Linked DNA regions of Homo sapiens. The protein of the gene in region 2 purifies or fractionates together with the protein of the main gene of each other region. This does not show direct contact. Each region holds a gene or a part of one and is shown on either strand. Other genes may lie near its edges.

Region 1 (8,053 bases), on a different chromosome or scaffold from region 2:
ACTGATGTTTTTTAAAGTGACTGACTCATGTGTGCTCAGTACACTCCCTCTTCAGTATTTAATGAACTGTGGTAATTGAAGGGGAAAGATCACAACCACAGAACTTCCAACATGTTCCTGATAGTGACAGACATAGTACCTATAAGGTGAATTACAGAAATCTTCTTTTTTGTGACACAATACATCAGCATGTGGTAACTCAGGGGTATTGTAAAAACAGCTCTAGCCTACTTTAGTAATCGGAAAATGACAAAGTCCTCCTGAAATCCTTTCTTCTGTATGTTATCTAATATCAAAACAAGTGATCAACGTGTGAAGCATGGATAAAAAATTTTGCAAAACACAAAAGATAGTTTCTACTTTCCACGAGTACATGACAGAATTTACTTTGGATATGATATATTAATACCATGTTTGTTCTTTGAAAACTCCCCATCTAATCCCCTTTGGAGATAGAACTACTTTCTCATAAGAAGATCAACAACAGCATCAAAATAATAATCAATGGTGATGACTTAATCTCAGGACGCAAGCATAAAATACTTCTGATTTACCTCTAGGAAAAGACACATTTGTTTTGGTCTTTCTTAATAGCAACATTTCTCTTCAATAAGAGACTAAATTTGAAATGGTACACTTTCTCCTGTTTTTCTTCCTGTAATTCTAGTGGCTAGGCTCAGGTAAATAAAAACAGTGTTTTGGAACATAGTGTGCATGTCTACCACTCTCTTCAGTCATGGGAAACAGAGAAATAGAAAGCATGGTTCTATATTAATTTTTTTTCTGTAAAAATATAATGCTCTCTTGACATAATGATAAAATGAATTAACTACTCCCCTAGGTGGGATAAACTAAGAAATGTAAGAATAAACAAAGTTACAAGGCAATGCAATATATAGTCCTGATCAACCCTTCAATGTCATCAAAAGTAAGATTTGGCTTCTTTTTCTTTACTAGAAAAGCCTTGAGAAAGCAAAACATAACTCAGCAGTGTTTCTCAAGTAGGCCCCAGGAGGAAAGTGAACATATACCCAAGGGATCTTGGGGCACCTTTACCTCAAGCTCAAAATTTCTTTCAAGTCTCCACTTAGAGCTTTAAATATTATGAAAAATTTGTATTCTACCTCATAATATATACATGTTTACGTTCATTTCCTCACTGCCGCCAATCTTCAAAACAAAGAAGAAACATATACCAGGAATATGTGCCATGATTACCTTGTGGTTTCATGTAACTTTGATACCCAGCTCCTCCCAAAAACCCAGTTTAAGAATTACAGATTTAAGAGTAATATGGCATACAAATAGATCAATTTATCATTTATCTCCTTTTTTATTTTATTAACAATGTTTTTATTTCTATTTTTTTTGAGACAGGGTCTCACTCTGTTACCTGGGCTGGAGTGAGTGGCACAATCTCAGCTCACTACAAGCCATCCTCCCTGGCTCCCGCCTCAGCCTCCCAAGTGATTGGGACGACAGGTGCAGAACAGCATGCCTGTCTAATTTTTGTAGAGATGGGGTTGCCCAGGCTGGTCTCGAACTCCTGGGCTCAAGTGATCTGCTCAGCTTAGCCTTCCAAAGTGCTAGGATTACAGGTGTGAACTACCACACCTGGCCACAATGTTTTTATTTTTAAAGCCTTAGCCACAGTGCTAAGAATTTGTTACCTAAGTTGTCTGCTTGGGTTAATTTCTTGTCTATTCTGTAACGCCAACTAGAGCTCAAACCATGCCACCTTCTTGCTAACTTCAAAAGCCAATTTTATCTGTGCACTGGGAAGCAAGGTGCTAGAAGTGCTAGATATTTTAGGAGAGAGGAGACTGTATGAGTAGTCATCTAGAGGTATGGGAGAGTAAATGGACCGGGGAAACAGAAAATGATTCTTGCGTAGCATAAAGGACTCAATGAGCTAAGGGATCATTAATTTAAAGTGAGACTGGTAAATATGGTTACTTTTTTTTTTCCTCTAGGTATGTTCAGATGTATGGGTGTGGGCAAGGAGTTCAGTGTACACAAGGCTATATCACTACCATGATTATGAAATTTAAGCTGGATAAGGAAAGTAAGACATCAGTAAAATCAGAGTGAAAAAAATGATGGATTTTTAAAACTGAGGGTTGCAATAGGTCTAACGACTTCAAAACTGTGAAATTGAGATTATGGAGGGGTTACAGTTTAGACAAAGATAAAATCTAGAAATGGGTACATAGTGAGATGGAGTGGAGGGCAAAATTTATTGGAAGAGAGGAGTTCCAGATTTTGAAGACACCAGGATATTGGGAGAATTATACATATGAACAATGGAATCACCAAGAATTACAAAACAAGCAGTACTGGAATGAATGCCAGGGAACCAAGAACCAAAATCTATTAGGAGACAATTTTAGATGGATCTTGTGTTTCCACACGTATTGTGAGCAGAGGCATTGACTGTCTTTGTTCTGGGCTATCTTTTTAAGCATGCTTGTATATCAAACAGCCCTGGAAAATAGACAGTGTCTTCTTCCACAGCAAAGGATAGGTTTCCTTACACTCTTGGAAGAGACAGTCTTCCTTCCAAACAAGGGCAGACATGCTTAGTATCCATTATAAAAGATTCCAGTTCCCTAAACTTGGCGTTCCTCATCTGTCATTTAATCCACTGTGTGTGCAGGTATCATCTGGACCTCTTCATATCACCCTTTGGGAATTAGAGAATTCGTGCAAGCAAATGCTGTCACTTTAGCTAATGTTTTTGCTATTAGTAATAAGGTCCTTTGTCTCTGGCCCAGAAATCTCCTGCCTTCTGCCAGCATCCATGAAATTATGGCAGGTTAACTTCTTAGTTTGCAAGTAGAGCAAATCTCAGACCCTTCACAATTCTTAACAAAATCTCCAATGAAGGAGAGATGGAGATGAGTGATGACTATAACTAAATGGATAGAAGGTGGTATAGTCTGATAACATAAGATAAAATTTGGAGGTGTTTGAGAAGAAAGAATGGTCTGGAAAATGCAATGAGAAGCTAAGATTACACCTCCAGGCTCAAAGGCAGAAAGAAGCAGGAGAGAAAATGGCCACTACTTCAAAGGGTTGCACGTAGTATCATCAGGGAAGCAAGATTTAATTTAGAGCAAAATGTAAAGTAATATTAACAGAAGAGGCTGAAGATAAAAAGAAATTTGCTGATGACTGACCTTGAGTTCCAGGGACATTATGAAAGATTTTCAGGAGACAGGGAGAGGTAGGGTTTAGGGTTAGTTTTGGATACATGTGTTAAGAAACCCACGAGTCTTAAGCTCCTTGCTGTAACTTACATGAGCAAGATAAAATGTCATGATTAAACTAGTTATGATAGTTTTAATCAGATCAAATGTTTGCTTGTTTCTATGTCCTCTGACCTCTTTTACCAACACAATATCTATTATGAAATGCTTTATTTCTTACTAACATCATTTTAGAAAATTTAGAATATATAAGTTTTTAAAAATTTAAATGTCAAACTGTTATTTAAGATAGTAAGAAGCAAGTGTTAACTTACTTGAATTAGATCTAAAATGCCAAGTTCACTTTCTGAAGAATCCACACAGAAGACAAAATATAACGTTGCATAATGTCTATAAATCAGTTTGTTGTCAGATCCTCCAATTAATCTAAATGACAAAAAAATTGTAATGTTATTGGAAACAAAATGCGAATCATTTTCATTAGCTCAAGCAAACTGACAATTTGTTTAAAAACCACTTGTCAAATGAAAGGTGACATTCAATGGCAAAGTATTTAAGTGAACTTATTCAGAGACTAGGTGAATTAAGGTGGCTGTTTTCTTCAGAAACATCAAGTAAAAGAAGCCAGTGCTTAATTTCAGTTCATTCATTCATTAAACTATTCTCTGAGTAACTACTATGTGCCAAGCACTGGTAGTGGGGAAGAAGCAACAAACACACACATCAGAACATCATCAGATAGTGGCAAGTGTTACACTGACAATCAAAATACAATGATGATATATTGATGGGTTCCCTACTTCAGGCTGAATATTAAGCAAGAGTGGCATTTAAGCTGAGATCTAATGATAAGGAGTTGGCTTGGAAAAAATTTAGAGAAGAGCATTTCAGGCTAAGGTAGTAAGTACTAAAAGGACATTTCATCAAGAACAAAGTATGTATGTTCAGGGAAGAGAAAAAAGGCCAGTAGATAAGAAAAGATTAGTAAATGATAAAGTCAGAGAAGTAGGCGGAAATTAGATCATGGGGCATTTGTAAGTGCTTACTAGATTTAACTCCATACGTCACAGTAAGTTACACAGCTTAAGACTGATTATCAACCAGAAAAAAAAGAAGAATGACACTTCTTAAGTTTTGGATAGATTTACCGTCAAGATCTCTTCCAAAATTACATTGTTTTGACATAAATGCAAGAAAACTGAGCTAAGATACTAAACTCTTTCATGAAATACTTTTATTTATAATGACTGGAATTTTAGTATTTTAGAAATAATAATTTAGGAATCATTCCAAACATATTTTTCTAAATATAGTTTAGCTATTTCATAGTTAAGTTTACAATAATGAATTCACCTTCTTAAAAGACCCCTAAACACTTACATAATTTACAATCAAGGCTATATGTAACCAAAATTAAACTAACATCCATCCCAACAGAATATGGGAAAATGGCATCTCTCCCTCCCTCCCTCCCTCCCTCCCTCCCTCCCTTCCTTCCTTCCTTCCCTCCCTCCCTCCCTTCATCCTCTCTTTCTCTGTCTCTCTCTCTCTCTTTCTTTTTGAGACAGAGTTTCACTCTGTCACCCAGGCTGGAGTGCAATGGTGCTATCTCAGCTCACTGCAGCCTCTGCCTCCTGGCTTCAAGCAATTCTCCTGCCTCAGCCACCAAAGTAGCTGCAATTACAGGCGCACACCACCACACCTGGCTGATTTTTGTACTTTTAGTAGAGATGGGGTTTCACCATGTTGCCCAGGCTGGTCTCGAACTCCTGAGCTCAGGAGATCTGCACGCCTAGGCCTCCCAAAATGCTAGGATTACAGGCGTGAGCCACTGCGCCTGGCCAGCATCTATTTCTTACACAGTAAAAATAATACTAAACTTATAAGTTCTGTAGAAACAACTTCCCAAGGTATATACTACTTCTATGTCTTCTAATAGCAAAAGGAGAAATGATCTTTGACAAGAATAAAAATTTCCTACTATGCTAGATACTCTTCTAGAGAAGATGTTTAATTTAAAAATATCTACATGCAATTTAAAGATTCTGAGAGTATATTTACAGACTATGACTGCAATTGTTCCCTGAAAGAGGCAAAAAGAACACAAATAGGAGGCTTTACTCCATTCTGAATCAGCGATTTAGTGATTATCTTAAAACTTTTGCTTTACTTTAAAAGGACAGCAAACTTCTGAAGAATATAAGTTTCAAAAAGGCCAGTAATGCTATTAAAAGCAAGCAAAATATTAATGCGGCAAGTACATATTTTGCCTTTAAAAATATAATCTTATCTTTAAGCTATAGTATAATACTGACAAAAATTCCTGTACAGAATGTAATACATCATATAAAACCACAGGACTGAGAAATCCTGTTAGTCCAAATAACTCATTTTATAGAGGAGAAAACTGAGGCCTGAGAATTTAAGTAACCTGTCCAAGGAAATCAGCTAGTTAGTGACAAAACTAGGATTAAACTAGATGTGAGGCCTCATCTCTGCTGCAATATTTGCTTTCTATTTTTTGTAAGGTTAAAAAAGAACAATCACAATTTCCAGCCACAATTTCTAATTCAAATAGCACCCTAGTAAGATTAATCAAGTTCTTACATGCAGTGCACTGTGCTGGGTGGTAAGTTTCCTAGGAGATAAGAAATCAAGAGGCTAGGATGAGAGGAAGTGATAGTAATGTCAAAGACAACTAAAATTAAATAAGTACAAGTAAAATTCAAAAACAGAAGCAGGTACACTTGTCTCAATTATTAAATTAGAAGCCTTGAGTTAACAGCAAAATTTGTAAGTATGTATTGGACATTTAAGGACAGCATGATATAATCTTTCAGGAAACCCAAGTTAAGTGTTCCACATGATAAAAAGTACCTTATGACCATGGATTCCCTGTTATCCAGAGTATTTCTCATCCATCATACACAGTAAAATACAGAAAATTCTAAGTTTCTCTGACTGATTTATGTTTGAGAACAAACCATTTTCATGGAAGTTATTAGTTTAAAAGTATTTGTTTGTAATATTTGGCAATATTCTTATTCATTTTAAAAATAGAAAAATTGATTAGCTGAATTAGGTATATTTGAAAAACAGACTTCAGTCTTGTAACAGTAAAATAAAGAATGTAATCTAATTTTTATGAACATTCACAAAAAGGAATACTCTGTAGTCATTAAAAAGAATAAGCTTGTCCTAGATGTGTTTCTATGCAAAGCTTTTGAAAATACTGAGAACCAGCAACATGCAAATGAGCATACAAAGTGTGATCTCATAAATAAAAATTTTAAGGTTGTAGGTTAGTCAACACATATAACATACTTTATATGTTAGTCAATACAAACTATTTTCTAGAAGGATACACAAGAAATTGGGTAGAAGGACTAAGGTTGAGAGATTCTTATTTTACATTTTATACTTCCCTGTAATGTTGGAATTTTTACGATTTAATATATTACCTTTATATAAAATTCCCTTCCAAAATTTTTAAGAGGAAAAAAGATTGCATATCTTTTAAAAATAATTCTTTAAGTTAGATTTATAGCTAACATAGGTGGCAATTAATTCACCTAATCCAATTAATCAAAAGTAGAAAACTTTTACCATAAACTGATTAAACAGTATATATTTTAATCACATAGTCAAAACTTAGAAATGTCTATGAAATGCTTTACTTACAATCCTCCTTCTAGGAAATTACAAACATTTTCATCTCTCTTAGATACCAAATGGAAAGTCTCCCTGATGATTTGCTGTTGTGTATCTTCACTCTGAGGAAGAATAATTCATATATATTAGGATGGAGTGTATAGGTTTAATAGCATTTTAAGAATTTTTAAAATCAAAGGTAGCAATATCTGTCTGGGAAATCCATCTAAGAGAGGGGTCCTTGGAGAAGTGACTTAAATTATACCTTACAGAAGCAAAACCCAGTATTTTTTGATGAAAAAGAAAAAAAACCCAATTATTTATATTTACCACTATAATAAAAGTAACACATTTCTAAGTTTCAAAAACCAACAAGAAAAAATATTAGATGAATTACATACACTGGTAAAAGGGAAACTAGATATTAACTAGTCAAAGCTGATTATCTTACAAATGAGTAAACTGAATCAGAAAGGTAAAGATATAAATAGTGTAGCTAATCTATATTTGAATGGAGGAAAGAAATAGAACTATGGAGCTTCCAATTAAGTTTAACCTTTACTAAATATAGACTGAGGTAAGAGTCCATCCATCTTACTCATCTTTATATAAGCCGATCTAAAGCCAAGGATTGGGTCAATAAACATTTATTAACCTGGACCAAGCAATTCATATTCCAGTAAGAGTCAGCGTCCTGGCCGGGCACAGTGGCTCATGCCTGTAATCCCAGCACTCTGAGAGGCCGAGATGGGTGGATCACAAGGTCAGGAGATCGAGACCATCCTGGCCAACACAGTGAAACCCCGTCTCTACTAAAAATACAAAAATAGCTGGGTGTGGTGGCACGTGCCTGTAATCCCAGCTACTCGGGAGGCTGAAGCAGGAGAATCGCTTGAACCCAGGAGGCAGAGATTACAGTGAGCTGAGATCGCGCCACTGCACTCCAGCCTGGCGACAGAGTGAGATTCTATCTCAAACAAAACAAAACAAGAGTAAGCTTCCTAAACACTGCAATAGAAGACTGACCAAAATCATGAACACCAATTTCACAGGAAAGGATGTGAATGGTCCACAAAGAAATGAAAAGATACTAAATCGCAGTAGTAATTAAGTGAAATACAAATTAAAACAATGAGATAGCTCCACATGTACCATATCAGCAAAAGTATAAAAATATGATAGTAAAAAATGTT
Region 2 (8,250 bases):
CCTGCACATGTCTGCCGGCCAGGAGCTGCACTCAGCACAGGTCTTTCCTGGAGTCTGGGGGTTGTTCTGGCAGAAGAAGAGGCAGAGATGACTCCCTGGCCCGACCAAGATGGAGAAAGACCAAAGTAGCTGGCATGAAGGAGGGCAGGGCTCATAGTCTCTGGAGCCACGTGTCCCTGGTGGCAGAGGCTTGAGAGGCATTTCCATGTCGTTCTGCAGACAGAGGGCGTGCGTGTGTCTGTGAACGTCCTGAACAAGCAGAAGGGGGCGCCGTTGCTGTTTGTGGTCCGCCAGAAGGAGGCTGTGGTGTCCTTCCAGGTGCCCCTAATCCTGCGAGGGATGTGAGTAGGATCTGGGCATCAGGGAAGCGGGGCAGCCTAGGCCAGTCCTTGGCTGGAGCCTCAACCAGGAGCCCCCCCATTTCTCCTCCCCTTTCCCTGGGCTGGGAGGCTGGTCAACAGCACAAGGGCCGAGTCCCACCAGCCGGGAGCTTGTGCACCTCGCAGGGAGGTGGTGGAGACCAGACGGGGCGAGGTGGGGCCTCGCTCCTCTGGAGGGGCAGGCCGGCTGGGACAGTGCTCACATCCTATCTCCCTGCTTCGGGCCATAGGTTTCAGCGCAAGTACCTCTACCAAAAAGTGGAACGAACCCTGTGTCAGCCCCCCACCAAGAATGAGTCGGAGATTCAGTTCTTCTACGTGGATGTGTCCACCCTGTCACCAGTCAACACCACATACCAGCTCCGGGTCAGCCGCATGGACGATTTTGTGCTCAGGTCTGCAGGGTAGAGTGAGGGGACCACGGGGGCTGGTTCTTCCCCAGGCTCCGGGGGTGACTGGTGGGGGCTCTTCTCTGCCCTGCAGGACTGGGGAGCAGTTCAGCTTCAATACCACAGCAGCACAGCCCCAGGTAACATCTCCCTGTTGATTGCTCGAGAGGAGAAATGGGGGAGCTTGAATATGAGAATGGGAGTGGCCAGCGGTCTTTGCTTGGCCTTTTGAATTGGCTGTTTTCTCCATGGAGGGCTCTCTGGAAACAGGAGCTCTGGCCCTGACATGGTGAGGGACAGACAGCATGGGACTGTACAGAGACATGGAGTCTGGTTGCCTCTCTGGCATTCTGCTGAGTGCCCTGCTGAGGTTGAAGGGAATGGTATACAGAGAAAGGGGCTGCTGTGATCAAGGCCTGTCTCCTCGGAGAGCCTCCACTGCCCACCCCTCAGAGGATTCTGGGTCCTCGCTTATAGGGGACTATTCCCTTCTAGAGGGGCCAAGAGAGCATCCTCATGAGATGGGGCTCTCCCTTCCTTCCTGCACCCTCAGTACTTCAAGTATGAGTTCCCTGAAGGCGTGGACTCGGTAATTGTCAAGGTGACCTCCAACAAGGCCTTCCCCTGCTCAGTCATCTCCATTCAGGATGTGCTGGTGAGTTGCCTGCCCTTTTGCTCTTCCCCAGCAGGCAGCAGGGCTGCTAAAGAGAGGGGCAGGCCAGGTTCCCATCCATCTGCCTCTCCCGCCCCTCTGCAGTGTCCTGTCTATGACCTGGACAACAACGTAGCCTTCATCGGCATGTACCAGACGATGACCAAGAAGGCGGCCATCACCGTACAGGTAGGAAATGCATGTGGCCACGTGGGAGGTGTGGCTGGGCGATAAGCTGTGTAGCTTTCCAAACTTGAGCTCTTCTTCCTCTGCCCATTCCTATCCTACACACGACTGAGTCTTTGGCCTTCCAGTCCCTGTGACTTTGAGTCCCCTGATATATATGAGAGTTGTACCATAATCCCAGTTGCTCTTGGGGATGGGAAAGAGTAGAGTACCCCCTTCTGGCTGTCATACCTACTTCATTCATTGTAACAATAAGAGGGCTGAGCGCGGTGGCTCATTCCTGTAATCCCAGCACTTTGGGAGGCCGAGGTGGGCGGATCACCTGAGATCAGGAGTTCAAGACCAGCCTGGCCAACAGGCTGAAACCCCGTCTCTACTAAAAATACGAAAAATTAGCTGGGCATGGTGGCGCATGCCTGTAATCCCAGCTACTCGGGAGGCTGAGTCAGGAGAATCACTTGAACCTGGGAGACAGAGGTTGCAGTGAGCCGAGATCACACCACTGCACTCCAGCCTGGGCAAAAGGAGTGAAACTCTGTCTCAAGAAAAAAAAGGTCAGGCGCAGTGGCTCACGCCTGTAATCCCACACTTCGGGAGGCTGAGGCGGGCAGATCACCTGAGATCAGGCGTTCAAGACCAGCCTGGCCAACATGGTGAAACCCCATCTCTACTAAAAACATAAAAATTAGCTGGGCGTGGTGATGGACGCCTGTAATCCCAGCTACTTGGGAGGTTGAAGCAGGAGAATTGTTTGAACCCGGGAGGCGGAGGTTGCAGTGAGCTGAGATCATGCCATGGCACTCCAGCCTAGGCAATAGGAGTGAAACTCCGTCTCAAAAAAAAAAAAAATCTTGTGAGGATTAAGTAAAATATATCTATGAAGAATTTAGCATAATGTCTGGCCCCAGAACAAGTATTTAGAAAAGAATGATGATGATGATGATGAAGAAGATATTTATCATCATCATCCTGCAGCGCAAAGACTTCCCCAGCAACAGCTTTTATGTGGTGGTGGTGGTGAAGACCGAAGACCAAGCCTGCGGGGGCTCCCTGCCTTTCTACCCCTTCGCAGAAGGTACATTTTGTGCCCTGGGCCTGGCTAGGGATGGGGAGGTCTTGGTCACTTTCTGGGAGCAAGAAGAGCCTGCGTGGCTGATTGGTGGACCTGATAGGACATGGGTTTTTGGCTCCAGTCTCTCAAAGGCCTGATCCCACTGACTCTAGCCAAGCTCCAGGCAACTAGTTTACCACTTTGACATTTTACTTCCAGATGAACCGGTCGATCAAGGGCACCGCCAGAAAACCCTGTCAGTGCTGGTGTCTCAAGCAGTCACGTGTGAGTGCTGCAGGTGGCTGAGAGGGGATGGACAAGCCTCTCTGGCTCCTGCTTTCAGACCTGGGATATAGGGTGTGCCCTGAAGTGGGTGATGAGGATGCAGATATGCTGGTGGGGTAGGAACGGGGAGTGTTCTTGGCAGGCTTCTAGATGGGGAGGGCCGGGAGGTGAGTTCCAGTGTGATGTGGTACAGAGAGTTCATGACTAAAGATGGAAGAACTGAGGTCCAGTTCACTTTCTGCCACTTATCAGCAGTGTAACCTGATTGTAAGAAAGAGCTTTAATTTTGCTTTGTTAGCATAGTTATAATCTTATTTATTCTGAAGGATGTTTCTTAATCTCATATTCAGAAACATACCCTAATTTGTCATTGAAACACTGCTATAAGATTGAGTCTCAGTTTCCCTGTCTCTATAACAGAGGGAGTAAAATTTGTCCAGTTAATCTCACTAAGTTATGAGGGCTAGCACAAAATTAGCAGATAAAATTAGCAGGAAAGTACCAGGCCCCTACTCAGTGCTCAATAAATATTTACTGAATGATTAAATGGGGCCCTAAGGGACTGTGATAGGAGGGGAAAGAAGGTGCCTCTCTTTCTTTTTTTGAGATGGACTCTTGCTCTGTCACCCAGGCTGTAATGCAGTGGCAAGATCTCTACTCACTGCAATCTCCGCCTCCCGGGTTCAAATGATTCTCCTGCCTCAGCCTCCTGAGTTGCTGGGATTACAGGCACCTGCCGCCATGCCCAGCTAATTTTTGTATTTTTAGTAGAGACGGGGGTTTCACCATGTTGGCCAGGCTGGTCTTGAACTCTTGACCTCAGGTGATCCGCCCACCTTGGCCTCCCAGAGTGTGGGATTACAGGCATGAGCCACCGTGCCCAGCCAGAGGGTGCCTCTCTCTCTCTCTCTTTTTTTTTTTTTTTTCCGAGATGGAGTCTTGCTCTGTTGCCCAGGCTGGAGTGCAGTGGCGCAATCTCGGCTTACTGCAAGCTCCACCTCCCAGGTTCACGCCATTCTCCTGCCTCAGCCTACCGAGTAGCTGGGACTACAGGTGCCCGCCACCACGCCCGGCTAATTTTTTGTATTTTTAGTAGAGAAGGAGTTTCACCGTGTTAGCCAGGATGGTCTCAATCTCCTGACCTCGTGATCCACCTGCCCCGGCTCCCAAAGTGCTGAGATTACAGGCGTGAGCCACCGCGCCCGGCCAGGGTGCCTCTCTTACATGGATTATTTATTCAGCAAATATTTATGGAGCACCTCCTATATGCCAGGTGGTATGCTAAGGCAGCAGTCCTTGGTGGGGGCGGGGTCCTGTCTAGAGGAACAGGAGGCAGTTAAGAGCTGTGGTGAGCAAGGAACAGGTCACTGTGGAAATACAGGACAGAGAAAGCTTCCTAGAGGACACAGTCCCTGAGCTGTGGTTTGAGGGTTAAGTCAAGGTGGAATTTTTGAGAGGCCAGGCACGGTGGCTCACGCCTATAATCCCAGAACTTTGGGAGGCTGAGGCAGGGAAATTGCTTGAAGCCAGGAATTCAAGACCAGCCTGAGCAACATAGCGAGACCCAATCTCTATAAAAAATAAAAAAATGAGCCAGGCGTGGTGGCACACATCTGTAGTCCCAGCTACTCAGGAGGCTGAGGTGGAAGGATGGAGCCTAGGAGTTGGAGGCTGCAGTGAGCTATGATCGTGCCACTGCACTCCAGCATGGGTAACAGAGTGAGCCCGTCTCAAAAAAAAAAAAAAAAAAAAAAAAGTAGAAGAGAAAGTTCTAGCCCAGGGAGCAACATGAGCAAAAATAGGAGTGTGTCAGAGTTTGGTGTATTAGAGGAACTGCCAGTTGTTCATACTGGCTAGGCAGGGCCTTACATTTGAGGGGAGAAGGGTGAGAGATTGAGCTGGGTGGAGGAGGACATGAAGGCCTTTGGGTGCCATGATGGGAGGTGGTGGAAGGTTTTGACCTGTCCACCTTCCTGTTTCCTCCTTGAAGCTGAGGCATACGTCAGTGGGATGCTCTTTTGCCTGGGTATATTTCTCTCCTTTTACCTGCTGACCGTCCTCCTGGCCTGCTGGGAGAACTGGAGGTAAAGTGGAACTGCTGGGCCTCCCCTGGTCTGGGTGGTTTGGGCAGGTGTGTGGGGCAGATCACCTGGCAGGATCTGAGCCAGCCTAGGGTAATCTACACCATCCATAGCAGATGATGGTGGGGCTGTTAGAGTCTGTGGCCCATGAGCCTCTCTAGAAACCATCCCCTCCCCTCAACCTTCTTCCCAAGCAGGGAGATCCCATGTTGCTCCCCAGCCTGTGAGGAACCCTGGGACAAAGGGTGGAGGACAGGGTCATAGCGATGAGAGTGGAGCAGAGAGGTAGAAGGAAAGTCAGCCCCATACAGAGTGATCCTTGTCCTGTCCCATCTGGGTGGCCTGTGGGTTCTGTCCATGCAGGCAGAAGAAGAAGACCCTGCTGGTGGCCATTGACCGAGCCTGCCCAGAAAGCGGTACCTCCAGGGGGCCTGGGTGGGGCGGGCACAGTGTGCTTTGTGTTTTGGGGGGTGGTGGTGGATGGTTCCCTAGGGGGTTGGAGGAGGAAGGGCTGGGGGTTTCTGGATGTTCAGATGGGGGTAACACTCCACAGATGGGAATGAGGCTGGGATATGATGTCCATGCATCCCTAACATGCACACCTCAGAGGCTGAGGTGTTGCTTGGTTTATTCCATGTCTAGCGATGGTGTCTGCCTGCCTTGGGCAGTGTGGCCCACGGTCTCTGGGATTATTAACCTTTCCTTCTCTCTCTCTTCCACCCCTCCCTCTCTTTCTGTCCTCCCTCCTGCGTGGGACCTTCTCTCTTAGCTTCTCTCCTTGGTAAGCTCCAGGTGCTGTGGGCAGAGGAGCTGGAGTCCAGAGTAGGGGAGGGAGGGTGCAGCACAGGGCTGTCTGGAGGGCTCGTGGGCGGGCCAGTGTTGTCTTTGTTGCTGGTAACTTAGATGTGCCTGTTCTTGAACTTTCTCTCTCCTTAGGGAAGACAAAGGGTGGTGCTGTTTCCATGGGAGAGGCAGGCAGGGGGCTGGGGCGGGTGGTGGTGGCAGCAGTGGGGTGTGTTTGCCTGGATAGGTGCTGCTTCTCGTCTGCTGGCATGGCCTCCCTGTGGCTGTCTTCTCTGGACCTTTCTTTGTTCTTCTCCCTGGCTCTAGGCCTCTCTCTTCGTCCAGTGCTAACAGACCTTGACTTCTCATTGCAGGTCACCCTCGAGTCCTGGCTGATTCTTTTCCTGGCAGTTCCCCTTATGAGGGTTACAACTATGGCTCCTTTGGTACGTGTCAAAGCCAGCACCGTGCTTGCTGGGGACATGACCTTGTCTCCTTAGGCCACCACCTCCGAGGCGGTAAAGTGGGAGCCACCTCCTCCAGCCCCCACACCCTCTGCAGATGCTCAGAGCCCCTTTCCCTGCGGCCTCTCCTTCCTGCCTCACCACTGATCGTTCCCCACAGAGAATGTTTCTGGATCTACCGATGGTCTGGTTGACAGCGCTGGCACTGGGGACCTCTCTTACGGTTACCAGGGTGAGTGGGCCAGGCTGGGAGGGGCGGTGTGGTGCAGGACGGTGTTGTCTGGGTAAAATGTCACGGTGGGCGGTTGCCTCTTCTGCCAGATGCTGGAACCTGGGAAGGGCCTGCTGTCTTCCTAACCCCTCTCTTCCCTCATCCCCTCCTCCTTGGCCCCAGTTCCCTGGTAACTTTCCCTTTCCTTTGAAGGGCACGACCAGTTCAAGCGGCGCCTCCCCTCTGGCCAGATGCGGCAGCTGTGCATTGCCATGGGTAGACCTGGGGTGGGGGTAGGGCTGTTTTGCCAATCAGTGCCTGCCGGCTCCGGTTGACTGCCGGCTGTGGGGCCAGAAAGATTCTATGTGCATGGCTTCCCCATGTAATTCCAGTAATTGCCCGCTCTTGTGTCTTCTGAGATAGCAGCAGAGCACAGGCTCCTTTGGCTGGCGGGCTGGCGCCTCCGCTCTCTCCAGGCTGGACAATCTAGTTTATCGTCTGCGTTGCCAGCGCCCTCACTCCCTGGCCTGCTTGGGGAGGGCTCACAGGCATGGGGGTCACATTCTGGCCTCTGGATAAAGGAGAAATGCTCTTTCTGCACCCCAGGCCCACTGGGTCTTTAACCCAGTGGCAGCCAAGGCAGTGTCTTCTCAGAACCCACAGGGCTGGGCACCCTTGAATCAGCATGACTTGCCGAGTTCAATCCTGTTGTTTGTGTCTGCTGCCTGGGGTCTGCCTTGTGTCCTGGCCTGGGAAGCCCTAGCCCATGAGGGGTGCCAGGAACAGAGCAAAGCTAGAGCGGCCCCTGTGTGGTGGCCTCTTCTAGAGTCTACCATCATCCCCCAGGACTTAGGAGCACCTGATGTCTCCTCCCAGCTCCTGAGCCCACTTCCACCCCAACTCTGAGGCCCAGCCCACAATTTGCCTCTTCCCTACTGCCTAATAATTGTTACAATTGCCTCAGATGGGCGAGGGCCACTGTGGGTTTTGTGTCCACCGGTGCAACCCCTCCCTCCCTGCCCTTTCCAGGCCGCTCCTTTGAACCTGTAGGTACTCGGCCCCGAGTGGACTCCATGAGCTCTGTGGAGGAGGATGACTACGACACATTGACCGACATCGATTCCGACAAGAATGTCATTCGCACCAAGGTCTGACCCGTGGGCCTGGCCTGGTCAGGCGTTTCCTGAGAAAGGGACATTCTGCGTTCCCGCCCCAGCATGTTCCCACTGACGTGGCATTTAGGGAAGCAGAAGGAAGGGGCTCAGCTGGGGCAGGGCAGATGCCGGGGAAACTAACCTGACCTCCAACCCCTTCCGGCCTGATTGGCCAAACCCTCTTGGTCTAAGCGGCCGCAGCAGTGGGATGTCCTTGAACCCTGCCCCCCTGAATTCGGCCCTGTGTGAGGGAGGCCCCTCTTGTCCACCTCTAACCTGGGGGAGGGGGCTTCTCCCAAGTAGCAGTAAGTGGGGCTGATTCCAGCTTCTCCCCAGCAATACCTCTATGTGGCTGACCTGGCACGGAAGGACAAGCGTGTTCTGCGGAAAAAGTACCAGATCTACTTCTGGTGAGTGGGCTGAGTGTCTGGGGCTCTGCTGTTGGTGGGTGTGTGGCAGCCTTGGGTGCCACCCACCTCACTGCCGCCCTCCTGCTCCGCAGGAACATTGCCACCATTGCTGTCTTCTATGCCCTTCCTGTGGTGCAGCTGGTGATCACCTACCAGACGGTGAGAGGGCAGGGCAGGTTCACCTTTCCGACAGCCTAGGACACC

Evidence for each region. Proteins that work in one complex are often made in the same cells at the same time.
Region 1: the proteins of SIDT2 (region 2) and AP3S1 purify together in Homo sapiens (co-immunoprecipitation; 2 studies listed by BioGRID and IntAct, with this or other methods). This does not show direct contact.

Annotation. Positions count from the first base shown.
Region 1 is NC_000005.10:115,865,599-115,873,651, reverse strand, and holds part of AP3S1 (AP-3 complex subunit sigma-1), read right to left. Parts: intron 6,983-8,053; coding exon 6,891-6,982; intron 3,636-6,890; coding exon 3,524-3,635; intron 1-3,523. UniProt on the Homo sapiens protein: Part of the AP-3 complex, an adaptor-related complex which is not clathrin-associated. The complex is associated with the Golgi region as well as more peripheral structures.
Region 2 is NC_000011.10:117,181,197-117,189,446, forward strand, and holds part of SIDT2 (SID1 transmembrane family member 2 precursor), read left to right. Parts: intron 1-219; coding exon 220-341; intron 342-610; coding exon 611-775; intron 776-863; coding exon 864-909; intron 910-1,322; coding exon 1,323-1,424; intron 1,425-1,526; coding exon 1,527-1,610; intron 1,611-2,582; coding exon 2,583-2,682; intron 2,683-2,877; coding exon 2,878-2,943; intron 2,944-4,933; coding exon 4,934-5,027; intron 5,028-5,387; coding exon 5,388-5,440; intron 5,441-6,181; coding exon 6,182-6,253; intron 6,254-6,431; coding exon 6,432-6,503; intron 6,504-7,511; coding exon 7,512-7,630; intron 7,631-7,972; coding exon 7,973-8,046; intron 8,047-8,138; coding exon 8,139-8,205; intron 8,206-8,250.